Homo sapiens: one gene and its partner. The main gene of each other region encodes a partner of the protein of the gene in region 2 in a complex. Each region holds a gene or a part of one and is shown on either strand. Other genes may lie near its edges. The genes, in order: NCAPG2 and NCAPH2.

Evidence for each region.
Region 1: the proteins of NCAPH2 (region 2) and NCAPG2 are in contact, whole or in part, in a cryo-EM structure (PDB 9F5W), measured with the Homo sapiens proteins. Residues at the interface, in NP_689512.2 of Homo sapiens: Pro316, Trp317, Gln318, Ser319, Leu320, Pro322, Phe323, Asp324, Ser325, Leu326, Glu327, Ser328, Lys329, Pro330, Phe331, Lys332, Lys333, Gly334, Arg335, Pro336, Tyr337, Ser338, Val339, Glu344, Gln360, Asp361, Phe362, Gln364, Trp365, Tyr366; in NP_001268861.1 of Homo sapiens: Lys248, Leu251, Gln252, His292, Ile294, His295, Leu296, Pro297, Arg299, Ser300, Val302, Lys340, Ala341, Arg342, Asn343, Ser344, Glu345, Val346, Pro388, Tyr389, Pro390, Arg393, Gly425, Glu426, Ala428, Phe429, Asp430, Thr431, Ser432, Arg437.

Annotation. Positions count from the first base shown.
Region 1 is NC_000007.14:158,698,716-158,710,827, forward strand, and holds the start of NCAPG2 (condensin-2 complex subunit G2), read right to left. Parts: upstream 6,090-12,112; 5' UTR 6,009-6,089; intron 4,988-6,008; exon of another isoform or gene 3,533-4,987; intron 3,224-3,532; 5' UTR 3,185-3,223; coding exon 3,107-3,184; intron 1-3,106. UniProt on the Homo sapiens protein: Regulatory subunit of the condensin-2 complex, a complex which establishes mitotic chromosome architecture and is involved in physical rigidity of the chromatid axis.
Region 2 is NC_000022.11:50,508,521-50,520,472, reverse strand, and holds part of NCAPH2 (condensin-2 complex subunit H2), read right to left. Parts: intron 4,754-11,952; exon of another isoform or gene 4,726-4,753; coding exon of another isoform or gene 4,699-4,725; intron 4,027-4,698; coding exon 3,925-4,026; intron 3,047-3,924; coding exon 2,991-3,046; intron 2,897-2,990; coding exon 2,812-2,896; intron 2,733-2,811; coding exon 2,664-2,732; intron 2,501-2,663; coding exon 2,421-2,500; intron 2,346-2,420; exon of another isoform or gene 2,341-2,345; coding exon 2,195-2,340; intron 1,825-2,194; coding exon 1,741-1,824; intron 1,284-1,740; coding exon 1,153-1,283; coding exon of another isoform or gene 1,114-1,152; exon of another isoform or gene 721-1,113; intron 1-720. UniProt on the Homo sapiens protein: Regulatory subunit of the condensin-2 complex, a complex that seems to provide chromosomes with an additional level of organization and rigidity and in establishing mitotic chromosome architecture.

The DNA of each region.
Region 1 (12,112 bases), on a different chromosome or scaffold from region 2:
CTCTGAGGTTTTCTTTAGCCACTCCATCGTTCCCAACTTCCACTTCCACTTGCTTTATCAGTAGTAGTAGTATTTTTTTTTTTTTTTTGAGACAGGGTCTCACTTTGTCACCCAGGCTGGAGTGCAGTTGCACAATCATAGCTCACTGTAGCCTCAAACTCCTGGGCTCAAGTAATTCTACTGCCTCAGCCTCCCAAGTAGTTGGGACCACAGGCACAAGCCACTACACTAGGCCAATTTTTTAACATTACTGTAGAGACGGGGTCTTACTATGTTGCCCAGGCCAGTGTTATCCTGGCCTCAAACGATCCTCCTGCCTCAGCCTCCCAAAGCTCTGGAATTACAGAGGTGAGTCACTGTGCCCAGCCTCCACCTGCTTTATTATTTCTCTATGTGTCTTGTTTTTCTTCCTCTACCACTAGAACATAAACCCCCATTTGTGCAGAAACTTTTCTTTGTGTGTACTATAACCCCAACTCTCAGTGCAGTGTCTGGCACACAGAAGGCACTTAGGACATGTTTGTTAAATGATGGAATTCTCCTCAGTGCTGTGTCCTCCTCCCCATCATTGATTCTCCAAGAAGGACAAGGGCATACAGTATAATCAGCTCCACTCTGGAACACTTGCTTGAAAATAAAAATTTGTTCCAACATTGTCAATACATCAAGGAACAATTTGACCAAAGGCAAATTCCCATTTGCTTATGTGGGATTTCATAGGCAAGAAATACCAGGTGAATGCAGAAAACTGCACCCACTGACTGGAGCCACCAGGATCCCATGAAACACAACTCAGACACCTACCAGCTCAGTCCATTCATACCTGGGCCACACATTGTGCCCCTCACCTGCTATGACCCAAAGGCTCCAACCCCACTGCACTGCACCCTCCCCAGGCCCACCGTGCTCTCCAATGCTCTGTATTCCCCTCTGCCTTGCTTGCCTTTTTCTCCTCTGTTCTACCTCATTTTCTTCCTCTTACACACAGAGGGGCAGGTGTACCTTGGGAGCACAGGCACCTACTCCCAACTATAGAATGTAAATATTTTTCAAGGTAAAGTGCCATGCTTACTATAGTATTTATGCATTTCTTACTGATTTAACATATAAAATTATGCTACTGTTTTATTAGGTTCCTGTTTTTAACATGTCACTGGCAAAATTTTTTAGTGTTGTCCCTCTAACTCCATTTTCCCCATAATCTCTCTGGGTTATTTATTTATTTATTTATTTATTTATTTTAACCAATTCTGCAGAGTGCAGTGACTGTTGGTAATGCATGTGTGGGATTACAGCAGAACTAACTGTACTTGGAAAGATCTACCTGATAGGCCCCAAACTGATTTAAATTCTTATCAAATTGAACTATGGGAAACCATCATTATTATATAAAATGGCATTTCTGTCATTCAACTTGATGAAACCACGTGATGCACAATCCTACACATTTTCATTTTTACACGTAAGAGCCACACGGTGACTAGGTACTAAGCTGAACTGTTAAGTGTTAATAAAGCTTATTGATAAACTAGAGTTAATGCCTCATTAGTATAAGGACTAATTCAGTATTCTCCTGAGATGTCTGCTGGCTTTCCAGCAACACTGCAAAGGCTGGTTGGCACACAACGGGTGGCTGGAAACAACGCACCCCAGAAGGGCACCTGTCATTGTGGCCACCAGTGTGATTTTGAGTTGCTATTTTTACCTCTGATTTTCAATTTAGTTTTCTGTGATTTTGTTAACATTATGGTATGCACTTTGCAACAACAATCTTTTAGACTTTAAAATATGTATGTACTGCATTTCCAATACAATCCATATACACTGCTACTGCTAAAGCAGACATTTATATATTATCTAACTAATTTGCTCTTATAAACACTTCTATGGTGATGAGATGCCTATGAGTTTGCGATTATTTTTAAGTTTACAGGATATCATTTTATAATACCAAAACATGTTATAAGCTCATTTCTCTTATAAAGAAAAATGATTTCTTAAATGTTGCCAGTAACAAATTCATTATTAGATTCCTCTAATTCTTTGTCACTAATTTGATTTTCACCACATAATAAGAACAAGTGAGACAAGTGTGCCAAGGGTCTCCTGCCCCAAAGATACTTTCGTATTTCAGAGTCAGTGCCTCCAATGCTGGCTTCCTCAGAGATGTGTCCTAGGCCCTTTTATCTGAAACTCTACAGAGATAACTGCAGGCATTCCCATGACTTAGGCTTCCATGCCCAACCTGTCTCTAGCTCAGCCCTTTCCCCTGGTATCCAGACGTGCATGTCTGACTACTGGCCATCCGCTGGTGCACATCCCACCACCAGTCATCTGGTACCTCCAAAATGGAGCCACATTCTCCCTTGAATCTGCCCTCTTCCCACGTTCATGAGCTTGCTGAATGGTACTACACAGTCAGACGCCTGGGCCCTTCCCCACCATATCCATATCCAATCAGTCCAATAGTGCCATCACTTCACTACCAAGCAGCTTCCCATTTCCAGTTCCTAATTCAACCATCATTTTGAAGAGCACAACCTAAGAGGTTAGCCTTAAATATGTCCCTTTGACATATTTCTCACTTGTAGTCAGAGGAATATTTCCAAAAGGCAAACCATATTTTTCTCCTTACCTCTATTTTGTCCACTAGTTCTCTCTCCTTCTCTTTTGTTCTCTTCCTCCCTTGCCTACAGCTCGCTCCCTGCTTCAAGCACCCACCGTTCTCAAGATAAAGTCTGAATTCCTTAAAATGGTAAAGACTCGTGTAGCCTAGCCCCCAGCCTCATCTTCTGCCTTCCTGCTGAACTTCAAGTTCAAACACAACAAACCTTCTCTAGTCTTCAGAGTGACCTTCTTTGTTAGATGGGTCCTTTCCCCCAACATCCCTCTTTGACTGGTTAACTTCTGTTTATCTTTTACATCTTAGCGTAGCCCACCAGCAGGTAGATTTGAGTATAAAGGGTTTTGTTTTCTTCTTTCAAATAAACATTGGTCGCTAAGGATTCACTGAGATAACTATGTTTCTTTTGGGGACATAATGACTTTAGAACATATTTCATATTCACAGTCAAAAATCACAACAAAACTAAAACATGAAACTTACATCAAGTTGAACAAATTGCAAAAACTCTCCAACCAGCTCCTTAGACACGGCTTGTACAAACGTCTCACGTTTTTCCATGACAGATGGCACTGTTCAAATGGCATTTATTTTGTAACCCTAATGGAAAACACAATCATACTGAAACACTTGCAAATATATCTTTTCCTGTAAGATTTAATTTGATATTAACATCCAAGAACTGCAAGAAAATTCCTCAACCACGTATGGCAGACAGTTTCTAAAAACATTCTGACATAAAACACGCTATAATATCTGAAAAACAATTTACTTATTTCCTTTACTGGGGATGTGAATAACATGATATTAATGATATTTTATCAACAATTGTTAATAAAATTACCAACTAAGGAGGGAGAAATCCAAATAGCCTTAGGAAGCTCACCACCATCTCTCCCTTTTTAGTACCTTAGCAAGATGCTGGCTCGGCAGAGCTGAGTTGATTCAACAAAAGAACAATCTGATCCCAGCTGCAGATTCTGAAGATGCTCCCTTTCTAAAGGCCATTCCTCCATCAAAAAAATCCCACTGTTAGTGTCATCTTGTTATTCAAAGTGAGATGGAAAACAGTGGCCCCGGGGGTCACCTGGGATCTTGTTAGACTATGCATTAGGCATGCTCAACCACAGCACCCTCCTCCCACCCCTTCGGGATAATGAGAGCTCAGGGGACTTTGTATACCCTCCATCCTGCCTGTGTTTTTCCAGGAAATTCTATTTCGCATTCACAATACCTGGTGCTACTGGTGCCCTACTGAAAAAACATCAACCTAAAGATGAGGTAATAGCAAATGATGGAACACATTTGCAGTAGGAGCCCCCTCACTTTAAAAATAAATGAAAACCACCTGCACCATTATAAATAGAGCAATATGGAAAATTATTGCCAATAATTATGGGGACAGAGAGTCATCTTAAACATATAATACTAGATTTTAATGTCCAAATTGAACAAAGCAAAAATAACCTCAGTTTAATGACTCCCGAAATAAGTTAACAGTGAAGTCTGGTCATCTCATTCCTCAACTCAAATGGCTGAACTATGAACTACGGTCATGGACCACATAACATTTCAGTCAACAACAGACCACATGTATGACCGTGGTCCCATAAGATTATAATGCCATATTTTTACTGTGCTTTTTCTATGCTTAGATATGTTTAGCGATGCAAATACTTGCCATTGTATTACAGTTGCCTACAGTATTCAGTACAGTAACATTCTAGGAGCAGTAGGCTACACCATACAGCCTATGTGTGTAGGCTACACCTCTAGGTGTAGGCAAGTCCACTCTGTGATGTTCATGCAATGATGAAATTGCCTAACGACAACGTGTCTCCCTCTTTAAATCAAGCATGACTGGCACATTTTTCACTGACAAAGAAAATGGGGAGGGAAGGGAGAGTGGCCAGTAACAAGCATAATGAATAGTGGCTAGGACAAATTCATGATTTTAGAAAAATAATCCAATAAGGTGCAGCAAACACATGGAATCATACATCTTCGCCCGGCAAGTCTGTGAACACTCTCCACTTTTTCATAGTTCTGGTCACTTTTCTTGTTTGCTCTATTTCCAAGTGTACCTCTTTGGCATGTTAGTCCAACTTACAGTAATACACTTCCTCTAGACTACCAAACTTATTCCTATATTTCCCATTTTCCCTCTTATATTAGTGACTGTAATTTTTTAATGGTTAATTTTTCAATCTATCTCCCAAAGTGGCAATATTCCATGTTTCTTGTACCATATGTGCATAAGACCTCAGCCCTGCAGCCAGAATGCTACTTTCAAGGTAAGGAGTCATCTCACCATCCAGTTATCAGTCCGAAGAGCAGGTTACTCTTCGCACAGGAGGTCTGGTACTAAATCAAGATGAGCATTAAAAAGAAGAAATCCCTGTTACCTTCTCACCACCTGTGACTTCCCACTCCGTCCCCAAACTCCTTCCTCATGGACACAACAAGAGGCACCAAACCAGCAACAAGAGTTCAGGAGACTGATGTCTCTGAGGACAATGCCCACGTCCACAGCTGGGGAGATACTCTCTGAGGGCAGTGCCTACACCCAGGGCTCAGGGGGACTCTCTCTAAGGGCAGTACCGACACCCAGGACTGAGGGGACTCTCTCTGAGGGCAGTTCCCATGCCCAGGACAGAGGGGGTCGCTCTCTGAGGGCAGTGCCCATGCCCAGGACTGAGGGGACGCTCTCTGAGGGCAGTGCCCATGCTCAGGACTGAGGGGGTCGCTCTCTGAGGGTAGTGCCCATGCCCAGGACTGAGGGGACGCTCTCTGAGGGCAGTGCCCATGCCCAGGACTGAGGGGGTCGCTCTCTGAGGGCAGTGCCCATGCTCAGGACTGAGGGGGTCGCTCTCTGAGGGTAGTGCCCATGCCCAGGACTGAGGGGACGCTCTCTGAGGGCAGTGCCCATGCTCAGGACTGAGGGGGTCGCTCTCTGAGGGTAGTGCCCATGCCCAGGACTGAGGGGACACTCTCTGAGGGCAGTTCCCATGCCCAGGACAGAGGAGGTCGCTCTCTGAGGGCAGTGCCCATGCCCAGGACTGAGGGGACACTCTCTGAGGACGGTGCCCATGCTCAGGGCTGGGGGGTCGCTCTCTGAGGGCAGTGCCCGCGCCCGGGGCTGGGATTTTCCTCCGACACGGACAAGAAGGACGGGCGTCGCTGAGCTGGGTAGGGGGGATGGCCCGGGGTCGCCAGTTCCGTCCAGTTCCGTCAGAGGCAGCACTGCCCGCACGCAGGTCGGCCGCCTCCTTAGGGGAGGGGAGGCTGGGACCCCGACCAGCCGAGGAGGGGCTTCCCGCCCGATCCCTGCTACTTCCCAGCCCCTGCTCTGAACCCAATCCCGGCTCGGCACCGCAGCTCTTACCTGGGCTCGGGGACCCGCCGTTTCCCGCGCTCGGACCAGATTCAAACGCACCCGCCGGCGCCCCAGACGGGCCCCGCCCTCCCGGTCGTCATCAGGCGCCGCTCTCGCGAGAGCTGGGGCGCCGCGAGCCTCGGGCCTCGCCCACACGCCCGGCCCGCCCCGCCTCCAGATCATGCCCCGCCCACATGCCCGCCAGTCTTCTTCCTGTCTATGCCCCGCCTCTTAGGGCGCGGCCTCGAGCAGCTAAGCCCAGTGCCCTACCGGGCACTACGGAACGCGCACGCGGGGCGCCACAGCTGGGGAACCCATGCCCGGTCCGCGCGCCGACGTCCACTGCGCGCTCGTGCGCGTCCTGGGGCCTCCGCGGAGGGAGTGCGCGGTCCAGGAGAGGGCGGGGCGCTGCGAGCGGGCGGTGTTGTGGGAAGGAGGAAGGAGAGGAAGAGAGAGAGGGGGAGAGAAAGGAAAGGCTTGGGGCGGGGAGAGGCCACAGGGCCGTGTCTGGATCCCCGGGAGGACCCCACCCCGACCTGGCCGGCCCCCGTGACCGCCCTCCCTGCCGAGGGGGCACCTGTCCGGGTGGTCCGCAGCCTGCACACGGTAGGTGCACCCTGGGCAGGTGCTTCCCCCGCAGGAGCCCCTCCGGCCAGGTGCGGCCCCTAACAGGTGCTTCTCCTGCAGTTGCTCCTCCAGCAGGTGAGGCCCCCGGCAGGTCAGCTGCCCATAGGGTGGAGAGGGAGAGGCCTTAGCGGGGACCCTCGGAGGCACCCGTGTGAAGGAGGAGTAGCAATGTCATTCAATTCTTTGGACTTAAATGCCAAAATCACATACTGATGTATCAATCTCTTTTAATTTGTGTCAGCGAATAACTTGATTGGGCGTTCCCAATTTTTGTTGAAAGCAAATTCTTAGAAAACGGTGCTCTTTACCACCGAGCTCTGCATCCCTTCGTGAGGACTTGGCCTTCCCTGGAGCTATATTCTTTCATGCTTGAGATGTCTAGAGTGGTATCTGTTTTCCTGGCTTAACTCAAGCCAGAGGTCTTGGCGAGATTGAAGTCGTTGCACTGTGGGAGCACAGCACCAACCAATAGGAACATCATGGGAGCCACAAGTGCACTTGTAAATTTCTAGTGACCACATTAGAAAAATGAAGATAAATAGGTGACATTAATTTTTAAATATGTTTTATTTAGCCTAGTATATCAAAAATATTTATGTTACTTGTTGGAATATCGTTTCAACAAGCAATATAAAATTATAGCAGGGAGAAGACTGGTTTACTAGGAAGCTTGCAACAGTGAAGCAAGGCAGGCTGCAGAGGGGAGGGAGAAGACCCACTCAGAGGATGCTGAGTCTGGGACCCTTGTCAACAGGTGGCCGATATCTAACATTGCCTATTTCATCCTGGGGCTCCAGCCACCTCTGACCTCCTCCTCCCTCCATACACAGATCCTTCCCTGCCATTTCTTGAATTTTGGTGCCCTCATCTTCTCACTGCTTTCTTCTTAGCAATTTCCTTCATATCCAAGGTGCAAACTGCCACCTTCAAGCAGTGACCTCTGCATCTGGATTTGCAAGACACGGTTATTTCTGAACTCCAGAATTTTCAACAGCTCACTGCCTACTCCCACGCTGGTGCTGACATGCATCCAAAACAGATATCGACTTCCCCTCCCACCCCTGAATCCTGCCCCTTTCCTTATGCTGGTCCCTCCTCCAATCAGCCATCTGTTCCTGGGGTTTCCACTTCCTGAGTAGGAATAATGTAACAAGTTACGCATGTGAGCTCTGAAGCTGTACCACCTGGGCTAACCTGGTTCTGTGCTCACTAGCTGGTGACCTTTGACAAGCCATGGACGACTGAGCCTCAGTTTCCTCATCTATCAAATGGGACCTACTTAAGTACTGAGCCTCCTCTAGGGGGTTGTTATGAGGCCTAAATGTCTGTATAATGCAGAGCTCAGCCTCCTCTAGGGGGTTGTTATGAGGCCTAAATGTCTATGTAGTGCAGTGCTCAGAGGCACGTGGAAGCAGGGCAGCAGGAGCGCCCAGTGCACCCCCAATGCACCTGCCCATGCAGCCACTAATGTCATAGGATCCTTTGGGTATCGCTTCACCAGCTAGAAACCTCCGTGGCCAGCGGTGCCTCTGCTAGAGTTTTGCTCGAGCCCACTCAGCCCAGCAGGTTGCACTCGGCTTGCACTACCAACCCAGATCCCACGCCTGCCAAGGGTGAGCCAGGTGCAGAGCGGCAAGGGGTATGTGAGCAAGCGAGCATGGGGTCCAACCACTGCGCACACCCAGCCATGCAGCTGCTGTGGTGGAGCAGGCAGCTCTAGGTGCCTGCACAGCTGCCGGCTCCATGCAAGGCTGTGGCTGGACCAGAGGTACCACAAGTGGCTTCCACTGCAGGCATCAGCATCTGGACAAGGGGAACATGGTGGCACCCGAAAGCTCACAGATGCCAGGAGCCACAGAGCCCCAAAGGGGGGTTACACTGTGTCACAGCCCTGGCTCGGGGAGCCCCGAGGTCTGGGCTCCCAGAAGGGCCACAGCTCTTCTGTCCTTCTCATCACCCACAGCGTGGCTAGCAGGGGGTCGTGTTTCCGGGGCGGCATGTTTCACCTCATTTGTGTTACAGGTCTTTTGGTCCTGCCGCCCCACACCGGTCCACGGCTCCTTGGCTGTCCCGGCCCCACCGCTGCTTCCCACTGCATGGGGTGGCCACTGGGCGCCAGCAGAGGGTGGGAGGGCTATAGCATTATAGCTCTGGCTTGGGGAATCCCAAGGCCTGGGCCTCTACAAGGGTCACCACTCTTCACTCCCTCAGTCTGGGAGCGTGTCACCACCCGCAGCTCAGCGACCCGGCCAGGAACCCGTTACAGCCACTTTGGCTCCCACCTGCAACTTGGCAAGCTGGCCAGGAAAGTATTACAGCTCGTTTTGCTCTCACCATTCAGCAGGTTCCAAGTTCTTGTCCCATGTCCAGGAAGAATGAGGTTTGGCAGACATCTGGAGGGTGAGCAAGGCAGAGAACAGCTGACCAAATAGCTCTCAGTGGAGAGGAGACTCGAAGTGGGTAGCTCCTATCCACAGGCACGTATGGGCTCAGAATGGAGGAAGTACATGTTGATTGGTCCATAGACAGGAGGAAGTGTGTGCTGATTGGCCCATGGGCAGGCCTGGAAAAAGCACTACTTGATTGGCTGAAAGGCATCAAGTAAGTTCTCTTTCTGGATCTCGGACTTCACCAGGAACTGGCATCCTGGCCCAGGAACTTCAGGCTGTCCCTGGCTTGAAAGTGGGGTTTCACCAGGGACCTGCCCCTTCCCACCCAGGAACCTGTCTGCCTCCCGCTGCCATCACCGTTCACTGGGAATGTGACCTTCCCCGCAAATAGATGACACTCCTCCAGAACTCAGCTCAAGCTTTACCTTCTATAGGGGTTTATTTCCTGAACCCCATAACCCTCACTGTAATGCAATCTCTTAGCCCCCTACCACAGGCCTCATCATCTCCTCCATGTCAAGCACTGTGTCATCCTTAGTCCTATATCCGTGGCGTAAGGCCTGGCACATTTTAGATGCTTGAAGAAAATATTTTCTGAATAAATGAATGAATGAGGCATGAGATCATCTGTGTTCTTAAAATCTTACAATGTGGTAAATTAGAAAAGGTTTATAGAATTAAAGGTGGACCACATGGCAAGGCAATATAAAACTAAGTTTCAAAGGGTATAAAACTTGGCAAAAATATCTTTGATAAAAATATAATATCTTTTTTTTTTTTTTGAGACATAGTCTCGCTCTGTTGCCCAGGCTGGAGTACAGTGGTGCTATCTCGGCTCACTGCAAGCTCTGCCTCCCAGGTTCACGCCATTCTCCTGCCTCAGCCTCCCGAGTATATGGGACTACAGGTGCCCGCCACCACGCCTGGCTAATTATTATTATTATTATTATTATTATTATTATTATTATTATTTGTATTTTGTTTAGTAGAGATGGGGTTTCACCGTGTTAGCCAGGATGGTCTCGATCTCCTGACCTCGTGATCCGCCCGCCTCACCCTCCCAAAGTACTGGGATTACAGGCGTGAGCCACCACGCCCGGCCAAAAATATAATATCTTTCATAGTGAGCCAAGCATAGGGTTTGCAGGGTTTTTTTTTTTTTTTAAGTTTAGTTTATTTTGAATTGCACAAGTAACACAATCACACGGTTCAAACTCACATGGCAAGAAGAGGTATACAGAAGAGTCTTCTGAGACCCCCTGGACACAGCCCTCTGCTCCAAAGGAAACCATTGTTATCAGCTTCTCAGAAACCCTTCCCTTGCCTGTATAAGAAAATACAAGATTTATAATTTAATTATAATAATTGTAACATGGAAAATAAGCTAAACCAACAAGAAGTCATTAGCTAGGAACTTCATGGAATCCTAGTTAAAATAACCATTTCAAAGCCACTCTGGGCAAAACCCCCCAGTGCAGGGCAGCTGTGAGGGCTCTGTCACACCAGCCGGGGGCCCGGAGGAGGGGTCTCCAGGGCCACACAGGGCCTGGCCCAGCAGAGTGAGCCACTGGCTCCAAGAAGGGGAGGAGTCTCTCCAGCACATAGGAAGCTGTATTAGTCTGCTCTCACACTGCTATGAAGGAATACCTGAGGCCAGGTGCAGTGACTCACACCTGTAATCCCAGTACTTTGAGAGGCCAAGGTGGGCAGATCACCTGAGGTCTGGAGTTTGAGACCAGCCTGACCAACATGGTGAAACCCCGTCTCTACTAAAAATACAAAAATTACCCAGGCATGGTGGCGTGCGCCTGTAATCCCAGCTACTCGGGAGGCTGAGGCAGGAGAATCGCTTGAACCCAGGAGGCACAGCCACACTTAGGGAGAGCTTGGGAAGGGGTGGAGGGTGACAACTGGGGGTGCTGAGACAGATACCATCACCTGGTGTCCCCGACAGTGAGGGGAGGGGAATGGTGGGGCGAGCCAGGCTCTGCAGGGCCCTCTGGACTTCTGGGGAGCTCCTGTTCAGTGCAAGTGGTTTTCTTCCCCCTCTTAGGTTGAATTCCTCTTTAACATGATCCCCGGCCTTTCGATAAAGGAATTTTCATACACAACCTGCAGCTGTGACCTAGGGAAGACTGCAGGGGCAAAAGTGAAGAGGAAAGTGAGCAGCCCCCCCCCCAATCCCCCTGGGGTCCTCGGGGACGTCGCAGCATGGGTCCAGGGATGCGGAGCTCAGGCACGGGAGGTGAGCTCAGGGGTATCTCCTTAGTGGTTACTCAAAGGAGAACAAGATAAACCATCGAGGGCAAACGTTTTCAACCATGGCTGCCCATGAAAACTACTTCAGCTGCTTTAAAAATACTAAAGGCTAGGCTTCCTGGCCAACTCAATCAAATCGATCAATTCAACCGGGGATTCCCTGGGCATTCTTTTTTTTTAGACAGAGTCTCACACTGTCGCCCAGGCTGGAGTGCAATGGCGCAATCTCGGCTCACTGCAAGCTCCACCTCCCAGGTTCACGCCATTCTCCCATCTCAGCCTCCTGAGTAGCTGGGACTACAGGCGCCCGCCATCACACCCGGCTAATTTTTTTGTATTTTTAGTAGAGACGGGTTTTCACTGTGTTAGCCAGGATGGTCTTGATCTCCTGACCTCGTGATCCTCCCGCCTCGGCCTCCCAAAGTGCTCGGATTACAGGCGTGAGCCACCACACCCGGCCTGCATTCATATTTTTTAACCTCCCCAAGTGATCCTAATGCACAGGTTAGAAGAAACTGATCTCAGAAAACATGTAAAAAGAGGAAACGTGAATGACTCGAGTATAAAATCAATAAAGCTGAGGTTCCTGCTCCAGGCTGAACCTGAAACAGCTGAGAATCGGACTGCGCGATGAGTGGCTCCTCAGCACCTGCCCAAGCCAGGCGTTAACGCGGGACAATCACTGTCCTCTTAAAGCTCATAGCATGACTGAGAAAGTGGACACAACCCAAGTGTCCATCAACAGACAAATGGAGAAACACAGTGTGGTCTTTTCCCACAATAGAATATGACTCAGCTGTAGAAGGAATGAGGCTCTGACACCCCTACAGTGCAGAT
Region 2 (11,952 bases):
AGACCAGCCTGGGCAATGCAGTGAGACCCCGTCTCTACAAAAAATACAAAAATTAGCCGGGTGTGGTGGTACACGCCTGTAGTCCCAGCTACTCGGGAGGCTGAGGTGGAAGGATCACCTGAGCCTAGAGAGAGTCAAGGCTGCAATGAGCCAAGATCAGGCCACTGCACTCTAGCCTGGGCAACAGAGCAAGACCCTGTCTCAAAAATAAATAAATAAAATAAGATAAAAATAAACCCTGCTAGTACTCTCTGGGGGTATTAAAACAAAAACCCTAAGAAAAACTTTAAAACACAAACAGTGGGCCGGGCGTGGTGGCTCACGCCTGTAATCCCAGTGCTTTGGGAGGCCAAGACGGGCAGATCACGAAGTCAGGAGATTGAGACCATCCTGGCCAACATGGTGAAACCCCGTCTCTACTAAAAATACAAAAAATTAGCCAGGCATGGTGGCGGGCGCCTGTAGTCCCAGCTACTTGGGAGGCTGAGGGAGGAGAATGGCGTGAACCCGGGAGGCGGAGCTTGCAGTGAGCCAAGATCGCACCACTGCACTCCAGCCTGGGGGACAGAGCAAAACTCCATCTCAAAAAACAAACAGAAAACACAAACAGTGGTCACGGGGTACTCTTCTTCAAAACTAGGAAAAATGAATAGAATATGACAAATATCCATGCCATCTACCAACTAGAGTGAAGAAACGTTAACATTTCCTCTGTATGCATCAGGTTGATTTTGTTTTAATGAATAAAAAGGAAGGATTTCTTGGCTCTAGGCTGGGTACAGTTGACCCCGGGGGTTGAGGGAGGCAGCAATGGCCTCCAGACACTCCCTCCTACCAGCCCGACTGCAGAGAGGCGCCTTGGCAACCGGCGGCCATCCCAGGTTGCCGTGAGCTCGACAGGGCTCAAATCCTTGGACGCCAGCCCACTACTCTGAGGAGCATCAGTTCTGCTCAGAGAGGGGAGGAACACAGAAGCTGCTCTTCAAAAGGGCTGGTTGCAGGACGGGCTGCAAGACAGGTGGGCTTCTGCCCCAGACCAGTGGTCTGGGGCCAAGGCCATACCACTGTCCTCCTTGTGCAAGGTGACTCGGCCCCAGAGCCAGGGTTGCCAGTTCACAGCTCAGGTTCTGCAGGCCTCCATGTGGGTCCCACCTGCTGCGGGCTCCTGGACTCCTTGGGCTCCAGAGCGGCCTTGGGGGCCGAGGCCTCAGGAAGCTCTACTGCCTCCTCTGCATCCTCGTCCTCGCCCCCACCCAGGGGCATCGGGCCTTCTGGAGAGGGGCCTAGGCAGGGAGCAAGAGAGTGATCAGCTCCAAGGAGTGCCGAGACCAGACGGCACCAAAGGGACCCTGATGGCTACTTCCTCCCTCAGCTTTAGTCACGGAGCCCAGAGGATTTGGCGGGTGCCTTGCACCATCCTCGTCGTGCTCCTGTGCTCTGTGCTCTGCTTGGTTCATTTTATTTCTTAGCAAATGTTCCTCTTTAAATGCAGCCATCCACATCTGCCCAGAGAGGAGACCCAGGAGGGCAGTCAGAGGGCAGTCAGTGAACCAAGATGGGCTGAGGCTCACCGGGGGCTGTGGCTGCTTCCCCGGGGCGAGGCCTCACTCCCATGGGCCACAGAAGGGGCATGAGGCTGGCAGCTGAGAGCAGCCCCTTGGAGCCCTGTCCACTGGGTGCTGCCTCCCTGGTCCCCTCTTTGGCTGCCCTGCCAGTCCCACCGGGGAGCTCTCTTCTCACCTGGCTCCTGGGAGAAGCCGAGTGCTGGGACAGGGCTCCTGCACACGGAAACTTCCATTGGCTGCTCCTCAGTCCTCCCGGTGTCTGGGAGAGACAGGGATCAGACAAGGTCAGCCCAGCCCCTCTCCAAGATGGTCCCTGCCCGGTGTTCAACAAGCCTCTCCAAGGGGCCAGCAGGAGGGCAGAGACCAGCAGACTCCAGGCCTTGGGCTGGGGGGAGACAGCAGGGCCCTGAGCCAGGCACCAGGTCTCTGGCACTGAGACCATGTTAACTTGTAATCAAGGCACAGCAGATGGGTGGGATGAGCACCAGCCAACCTGTCTAGACTAGAGCAGGCACCCAGAGACAGGGAGCTCCCAAGACCAGAGGTGGCAAGCACAGGGCACCCCACAAGAGTCCAACCAGAAGACCCTCCCTTCCTTCCCACCAAGCCCCCCGCATCCAAGCCCTCACCCTTCTGGGTCCCTGGCATGGGGGAAACGCCCGCTGGTTCCATGGGGGACATGCCCTCTGGCTCCAACATGAAGGCCCCTCTGGGGTGGGGAACGCACGTGTTCATCCTGAAATCCTTCCGGCTGGCCAGGACCTCACCCTGACGGCTGTGCTGGCAAAAACACGCCTGCTGTAGAGACCCTTCCCAGGCAGGCCTCCCTCCCCGTCGCTGGGCTCAGATCCCTACCTGTACAGGGGATTGTTGTTCTTCTCCATTTCATCAGGGGCCACCAGGGCCATGGGCAGGAGGGGGATGATGAGGACCTCCTGCATGGAGGCCAAGGGTGGGTGAGCCAGGCACCCTTCCACTCCAGTGGAGAACAGGACCCACATGGGGCAATGACACCTTCCCACACCCCATCAGCTCAACACAGCCCCAGGGAAAGTGCTGACCTCACCCCAGCCTAAGAGGGGCCAGGCCAGGACTCACACTGGGCGTCTGATCATTCTTGAGATCCACGTTAGTCCGGGAGTCAGGGAAGTCATCCAGCGACAGGAACTGGAGGGAGACAGAGCTCGTGGGGGCGGAGCCCAGGCAAACACACAGTGGGCGGGGACCACATGCCAAAGAAACTCACCTCATTCTCTGCCTCCTGGGGGACCCCGGAGCTGGCAACCCCATTGGCCCTGTCCTCCTGCACCGAAGAGAGCTGCTTGGCCCGCCTGAGAGAGAAGCACATCCCGTGGGCATCCCAGGAGCTGCAGGGGCCTCCCTGGCCACATGCAGGGCAGCACAGTGAGTGGCTGCAGAACTCACCTCTTTCCAGAGATGAAATCAAGGGCCTGGTAGACGAGTGAGTAGAGGTATTCCACCTGGTGACCAGATGCAGGCAGTGAGGACCCAGAAAGGAGGGGCCCACCCCCAAGGCCTTCCCAGCTATCCATCGGTGCCCCCACGAGGCCTGGCCACCACCACCAAACCTCCAGTACAAGAAACCACCAATTTTGGTTCCAAAAATAATTCTCAAATCAAACCAGGAATCTCATGAGAATTACTTTACCAGCTGAGGCCACCCACATCTCTCCTCTGCCCTCTATGGTCCACGCAGCCGCGAGCGTGGCCTTCTCAACGTGTGACCCTGACAGCACTGTGGTTCCCACAGTGTGCCTCATCACACGGTCCTTGGTGGTGAGGCCCCTCGTGCTTGGCACCCACTCTGCCGACGGCCTGCAGCCCTGCTGCTCCTCCGCCCGTGTGCTCCCGCCAGCATCACCCCAGCCCCTCCTCCTGTCCTGGCCCTGCCCTGTCCCAGCTCCTGCCGCCACGGGGCCTGCAGGACAGAGCCCGTCACTCACTTCCTGTCCTTCTCCTCCACAGAACAGAGGCCCCACCGTGAGGGTGGTGGTTGTGGACTTTCTAGGTGCTGACAATGAGGCACCCACAAGTAGGGGACGGGGAAGGGGAAGGTGGGTGCAGGTGGCACCCTGGGCTGTGTCCAAGTGCACACAGCAGGTGTCATTCCCCCAAGACAACAGAGCCCAACAGCACAAAAGACCCTCCCTGCCTGGCTGTGCGATTTTAAATTAAAAATTGTTCTTGGTGTTGGAAGGTGCTGAGGAATTGGCTGAGACCTGAGGAGAGAGGGAGGTAGGTCACAGACGGGACGACCACTGCACCTGCCCCAGAAGGAGAGCCGACTGTGGTCCCACTGGCCACCAAAATGCCAAGACCAGCGTCAAGCAGGGCCCACCTTCTTACTGTAGACGCAGGCAGAGCCCTGGATCAACAACGCTGCCTCAATGAAGTTCATTGTGGTCTTGCCTTCGTCAAAAGAAATGCAGATCTGATCCAGCTGCAAGAAACAACACAAAGACAGGGGGAATCCAAGGCCCAGTCTGCACTCGCTTCTTCCAGGGCAGCCCCACCCATCTTTGGTCTCTGCCCAGCACCTCCCGAGACGGGCAGCTCTAGCTATGCTGTGGGCTCACCGGTTGTCCCTGGTATTTCGGGGCAGAGACAGGTCTCTGTGTTTCCCCCTACTTCCTATAACAAAAACCTGTTTTGGAAGTGGAAGGCCCCCAGGGCACACTGTCTACAAACAACCAGGGCAGCACAGCGGCTCCCTCCACAAGGCGCCAGAGGCTGACAGACTCCAGCAGGAAGATCCCCGACACAGAGAAGAAAAGGGAACCTCAGGGGTAGGAAAGGCAGAGATAAAATGCTGAGGTCTCCATCCTCTGAGCAGAGAACTCAGGAAACAGTTACAGGTGAGTCGCCATCCTTCCTCTGCTCCCCTCAGCCTCCCGGAGCCCCAGCTCCTCTGTCACCCCTTAAACGTCAGTGCGCCAGGCGCTCCACCCCCCGCCATGCACATTCCTTCATCCCATGCCCAAGCTGCCAACCATAAGCCAATGAGCCCCAAACCCAACCCGACCAGCTCTCTCTCCTTAGCTCTGGGGCTGCATTCATAGCTGTCCACAGAGTACATTCAAATGTCCCCAAACACTTTACTTCCATACTTTACCCAACATCTTCCCCAACGCTGGCTCATCTCCTGTATTCCTTCTCAGCAAATGACACTTTAAAAAAAAAAAAAAAAAAAAGGCCGGGTGCGGTGGCTCACACCTGTAATCCCAGCACTTTGGGAGGCCGAGGCGGGCAGATCATGAGGTCAGGAGATCGAGACCATCCTGGCTAACACGGTGAAACCTCGTCTCTACTAAAAATACAAAAAATTAGCTGGGCGTGGTGGCGGGCGCCTGTAGTCCCAGCTACTCGGGAGGCTGAGGCAGGAGAATGGCATGAACCTGGGAGGCGGAGCTTGCAGTGAGCCGAGATCGCGCCACTGCACTCCAGCCTGGGCGACAGAGCGAGACTCCGTCTCAAAAAAAAAATGTTTTTGTAGAGACAGGGTTTCTCTATGTTGCCCAGGTTGGTCTCAAACTCCTGGCCTCCAGTGATCCTCCTGCCTCAGCCTCCCAAAGCACTGGGATCACAGGCATGCACCACCGTGCCCAGCCACAAACGACACTTTGAAGCCCCTAGGTGTCTTTCCAGCTCTTCAATTTTGCATTTCCATCTGCCTGGAACACCGACCCCCAGCTGTCCCCACGCAAACTCTTTTTCAGAGCCCCTCCATTCCTGGGGCCTCTGTGCCGCTCCCTTAGTGTGATCGTGTCCCTTAGTGAACTGTGTGAGCAGCATTAGTGTAATTCCAGCCTTCTGTTCAGTGCCTGACACTGGTGTCCAGTAAATATTTGATGAACACATGCATAGATAATGTCAAAGCTAAGCCTGAAAAACGCAGAGGCTCACCAGACAGATGAAGGGAACGTGAAGGCAGCTAGCAGAGACTGGACACGTCTCTTCAGGAAAATGAGCATGATCTAAACATGGCCAAAGCATGGCGCGTGCTGGGGAGAGGCAAGATTTTAGGCACCATGGTAGCACGAAGGAGTGGCAGAGGCTGGGAAGCCATCCCCAAGGGGAGTCACTTCCATTAGCTCTTGAAGGATAAAGGGTGTTTGTCAGATCTGGGAGGAAGGGAGAGGAAACAGCAGCATGGTCGTCTACGGAGTGTAAGGACCTCGGGGGTGTTCAGGACCTGAAGAGCTGGTCCAGAAAGAAGGGAACATGGAGGAGATGGCGGCCTGGAAGCTGAGCTGCAGAAGTGGCCCTTCTCTCCAGTGACCCTCAGCCTGGCTGGCTTGCCCACTCCCAAGACACTACTGGGCTTCACTTGTCTTCTCACCTCCCCAGGTTGGACCTGCCATCTGAGCCCAAACCCACATGTTCAGCTGCCTTCTTCAAACATCGCTTGGATGGCTTCACCAAGATTCATACTGAATGCATCCACACTGAACTCCAAATAGCCCCCAACCCACCTGCCCAGAAACCCAGGGGTTCCTCTCCACAGTCACCCCCATTCTGGCCCCACCACCTCCCCTTTCACCTCTGCACTGACAGGGCTCCTCCTGCCCTTCACTCCCCTCCCGTCCACTCTCCACGCTCTGCTCAGTGCCTCTGTTTAGGATTTTGGGTTTTTCCTAACAGTGGCAGGAAAAACCCAAAATCCTAAACGGAGCCAGAGGGAGGCCTCCATGCTGGCCAGCCTCCCTCTCCAGCTGCCTGCCCTCCTCTGCTCTATGGTCCCAACTTGGAACCTTCTGTTTTGTTTTGTTTTGTTTTGTTTGAGACGGAGTCTCACTCTGTCACCCAAGCTGGAATGCAGGGGCGCAATCTCAGCTCACTGCAACCTCCGCCTCCTGGGTTCAAGTAATTCTCCCTGCCTAAGCTTCCTGAGTAGCTGGGATTATAGGCGCCCGGCTAATTTTTGTAAAAACTCCAATCCTTCCAACACCAGGTTTCCTCCACCTGGAGCTAAACATTCTTTAGCTCACCATAAATAAGTAACTGCTTTCATCTCAAACAAACTAAGCCCCCCAAACTCTCCACAGGACCATACATTTTCTTTCAAATCCCTTATAAGTTTCTGGTGATTTTTTCGGTTGGTTGGTTGGTTTTGGTTTTTGTTTTTGAGACAGTCTCTCGCTCTGTTGTCCAGGCTGGAGTGCAGTGGCACAATCTCGGCTCACTGCAACCCCTGCCTCCCAGGTTCAAGTGATTTTCCTGCCTCAGCCTCCCAAGTAACTGGGACTACAGGCATGCACCACCATACCTGGCTAATTTTTTTTGTACTTTTAGCAGAGACAGGTTTTCACCATGCTGGTCAGACTCATCTCGAACTCCTGACCTCAAATGATCCTCCTGCCTCGGCCTCCCAAAGTGCTAGCATTACAGGCGTAAGCCACCTCGGCCTCCCTAAGTGCTGGGATCACAGGCGTGAGCCACCTCGGCCTCCCTAAGTGCTGGGATCACAGGCGTGAGCCACCTCGGCCCCCCAAAGTGCTGGGATCACAGGCGTGAGCCACCTCGGCTCCCCAAAGTGCTGGGATCACAGGCGTGAGCCACCTTGGCCCCCCAAACTGCTGGGATCACAGGCGTGAGCCACCTTGGCCCCCCAAAGTGCTGGGATCACAGGCGTTAGCCACCTCGCCTGGCCATCAGTTTCTGACTACACAAAGTCACACGCAGGGGTGGAGGCTGGATTCTGATCTGCCAGGAACCACTATCATTCAGAGTACATCTCTAACGCCTCTACTAACAAGGTTTTTGTGAGGACTCTGCATTCATATGTGTAAAGCACATAAAACAGGTGCTTAACACAAGTAAACACCAAATGCATATTTATTACACCCCCATGCGGTTACTCTCTTGGACCCGTCTTCCCATGACAGAGGAAGTCCTACCATAGTGGGGATTATCATTTGCTTTGCTTGGCACTATTTTTTCAAAGTTTAACATGGTTCTTGGCACACAATTCACAACTAACAACAATGAATAAATAAATGGATAAAAGAGAGTAGGATCATGACAGTACTAGAAGAACATTCTGGCCAGTGCAATGGCTCACACCTATAATCCCAGCACTCTGGGAGGCCAAGGCAGGTGGATCACTTGAGCTTGGGAGTTTGAGAACAGCCTGGGCAACACAGTGACACCCCATCTCTACCAAAAATACAAAAAATTAGCCAGGTGCGGTGGCACATGCCTGCAGTCCCAGCTACTTGGGAGATGGGAGGATCACTTGAGCCTGGGAGATCGAGGCTGCAGTGAGCCATGATTGCACCACTGCACTCTAGCCTGGGCAACAGGGCAAGAACCTATCTAAAAAAAAAAAACAAAAAAAAAAAAACAAAGGACAAAAAAAAGAAAAAGAACATCATGGTAGTGTGTGGAAAATGACAGAAGGAAAAAGATAATACTAGAAACCAGGAAATCAGGACTTCAAGCTGCAGAGGTTTGGAAGAGCAGACATAAGAAAGCAGGAAGGGAGCTGACCAAGCCAGGAAGGAGATTTACCAAGTGAACAGGTGTCCTCATGGACCCTGCTTGATGTGAAAACCTGAATCCACAGGAGCTCTGCCCAGCACAGTTCCCCGTATTTTCTCAGCCAACTATGCATGAGAGCAGAGAAGTTTGGTCATCAGATCACATGTGCATTTAACAAACACTTTAACGTCCACACCTATGTGCCAGGCACTCTACTAAGCAGACAAAAGAGGGCATAAGTATGGTCCCTGCCCTGGCAGAATTCACATTCTAGGGTGGAGACAGGCCACAAACAGGTAAATGAGTTGAAGAATGGCTTGTGGCCAGTCGCAGTGGCTCACACCTGCAATCCCAGCACTTTCAAAGGATGAGGTGGGCGGATCACGAGGTCAAGAGTTCAAGACCAGCCTGGCCAACATGGTGAAACCCCATCTCTACTAAAAATACAAAAATTAGCTGGGGCCAGGCACGGTGGCTCACACCTGTAATCCCAGCATTTTGGGAGGCCGAGGCGGGTGGATCACGAGGTCAGGAGACCAAGACCATCCTGGCTAACATGGTGAAACCCTGTCTCTACTGAAAAATACAAAAAAATTAGCCAGGCGTGGTGGCGGGCGCCTGTAATCCCAGCTACTGAGGAGGCTGAAGTAGGAGAATGGCGCGAACCCAGGAGATGGAGCTTGCAGTGAGCCGAGATTGTGCCACTGCACTCCAACTTGGGCCACAGGGCAAGACTCTGTCTCAAGAAAAAAAAAAAAATTAGCCAGGCGTGGTGGCAGGCGCCTGTAATCCCGGCTACTCAAGAGGCTGAGGCAGGATCGGACGCGGTGGCTCAGGCCTGTAATCCCAGCACTTTGGGAGGCCGAGGCGGGTGGATCATGAGGTCAGGAGATCGAGACCATCCTGGCTAACACGGTGAAACCCCGTCTCTACTAAAAAAATACAAAAAATTAGCCGGGCGTGGTGGCGGGTGCCAGTAGTCCCAGCTACTCGGGAGGCTGAGGCAGGAGAATGGTGTGAACCCAGGAGGTGGAGCTTGCAGTGAGCCGAGATTGCACCACTGCACTCCAGCCTGGGCGACAGAGTGAGACTCCGTCTCAAAAAAAAAAAAAAAAAAAAAAGAGGCTGAGGCAGGAGAACTGCTTGAACCCAGAAGGTGGAGGCTGCAGCAAGCTGAGATTGCACCACTGCACTCCAGCCTGGGTGACAGAGTGAGACTCCATCTCAAAAAAAAAACATATAAATAAATAAAATTTTTTTTGGCTGGGCGCGGTGGCTCATGCCTGTAATCCCAGCACTTTGGGACACCGACACGGGCGGATCACCAGGTCAGGAGATCGAGACCATCCTGGCTAACACGGTAAAACCCCGTCTCTACTAAAAATACAAAACATTAGCCGGGTGTGGTGGCAGGTGCCTGTAGTCCCAGCTACTCGGGAAGCTGAGGCAGGAAAATGGCGTGAACCCAGAAGGCAGAGCTTGCAGTGAGCTGAGATCATGCCACTGCACTCCAGCCTGGGCGACAGAGTAAGACTCCATCTCAAAAAAAAAAAAAATTTAAATGGTTTATGATAAACATTCTAAAGTGTGTAAGGTGCTGAGATGGAGAGGACTATTTTAGATAGGGTGGTCAGCTGACATTTACACTAAGACCTTAAGAATGAAAAGGACTCAGTCAGCCAGGCGTGGTGGCTCACGTCTGTAATCCCAGCACTTTGGAAAGAGGCAGAGCTGGCTGGATCACCTGAGGTCAGGAGTTTGAGACCAGCCTGGCCAATGTGGCGAAACCCATCTCTACTAAAAATACAAAAATTAACTGGACGTGGTGGTGCATGCCTGTAATCCCAGCTACTCGGGAGGCCAAGGCAGGAGAATTGCTTGAACCTGGGAGTCGGAGGTTGCAGTGAGCCAAGATTCTGCCATTGTACTCCAGCCCGGGCAACAGAGCAAGACTCCATCTCAAAAAAAGAAAAGAAAACAAACTCAGTCATTGAAAGAATATTCCCAGCCAGGTGTGGTGGTGCACAGCTATAGTCCCAGCTACCTGAGAAGCTGAGGCAGGAGGACTGCTTGAGCACAGCAGTTTGAGACCAGCCTGGGCAACACAGTAAGATCCTCCTCTCTGATTTTTTTTTTCTCCTTTTCCTTGCCATATGAAGTCCCTCTTTATTTAAAAACAAAAAAGAGGCCGGGCGCGGTGGCTCACGCCTGTAATCCCAGCACTTTGGGAGGCCAAGGCAGGCGGATCACGAGGTCAGGAGATCGAGACCATCCTGGCTAACACGGTGAAACCCTGTCTCTACTAAAATACAAAAAAATTAGTTGGGCGTGGAGGCGGGCGCCTGTAGTCCCAGCTACTGCAGAGGCTGAGGCAGAATGATGTGAACCCAGGAGGCGGAGCTTGCAGTGAGCTCAGATCGCGCCACTGCACTTCCGTCTCAGAGTGAGACTCCGTCTCAAAATATATAAATAAATAAATAAAAACAAAAAAGAAGATTCCCAAGTGGGGGCAGAAAGCATGAAGATCTTCCACCAAGAAAAAGCTTGGAGGGGCCATAGGTTGACTGGTTCAAAAGAACAAGATACAAAACAGCCCAAAATGAGGCTAAAATGGAGAGCAGAGCCAGGTTCAGAGAAGGAAATTTGGGTTTTATTCTGGGCATAATGGAAAGCCACTGAGGGGTTGATTTTAGGCAGAAAACAGTGCTGTGGCCAGATTTTAATTTTTAAGAGTCACACTTGCTGCTGGTTGGAGCACGAATTGGACGGGACAAAAACAGGGATAAGGGAACCCAAATAGGAAGGTTTTACACAAATCCAGGCCAGAGACAATGGTGGCCTAGACCAAATAAAATGGACAACAGATGAATTCAAGTGATATTCCGGTGGTATAACTGATGGAATTCATGGATGAACTGAGTGTTAAGCATGGGGCTTCACTATAGCCACATTTAGCTTTTGCTTTTGGTTGAACAGCGGTGTCATTTTCCGAGATGGGAAAAGCTGGGGTTTAAGCAGAAAAATGAAGAGTTCCACTTTAAATATGTTAAATGAGATGTTTGCGTGACACCCACTAGATGTCAAGAGAGCAGCTGGATATGTAAAGTAGATTTGGAGGAAAGATCTAGGATGGAGCTGCAGATCTGGTAGTTGTCCTAATACAGGCAATATTTAAAATCATAGAAATAAATGACACTTCAGGGTAAATGCATCAGAAGATGACCTAGGCCCCATCCTGAGGAACTCAACACTTAGAGACTGGATAGAAAAGAAAAATCAGGCAATGAAATAGGGAAAAAAAATCCTACCACCATGTTTCAAAAAGAAAGGAGTGGCCAGTCCAACAAATGCTGACTTATGTCCCTTGGATTTGGTAGAATGGAGATCACTGCTGATCAAGACAAGAAACATTTAAGTGTCGTGGACGCCAGACTGAGCTGGGCTGAGGAGTAAAAATGAAGCGCAAATATGGAGCAGACAGCTTAACACAGGTCTAGACAGGGCTGTCAAACATGGAAGAAACACTAATCGCTAACAGGATAGAGCATGGCAATAGCTTGAAATTGGTTTGAAAATCCAAGATAAAAAATTCCTCTGACATCGTGATCCAGACCTCTCAAACACACAAGCATGCTCGCAATAACTGCAATAAAAGCAATAATGCTTTCTAGTCTATTCCACTACGTTAGAGAAACGGCTGGTCACCACCCACTCAATCATTCACGGCTCGCTGACGGGTAGAAACCTGCAATGACAGGTCCACGCTAATCCAACAAGGGATGATTTGGGGAGGCAGAGATGGAGTTTGAAAAGAAGCAGGGAGCCCGAGGACCTGCGCGGCCAGAGCGCCAGATAGCCATAGGCGTGGAGACGGTGGGGCGCCCAC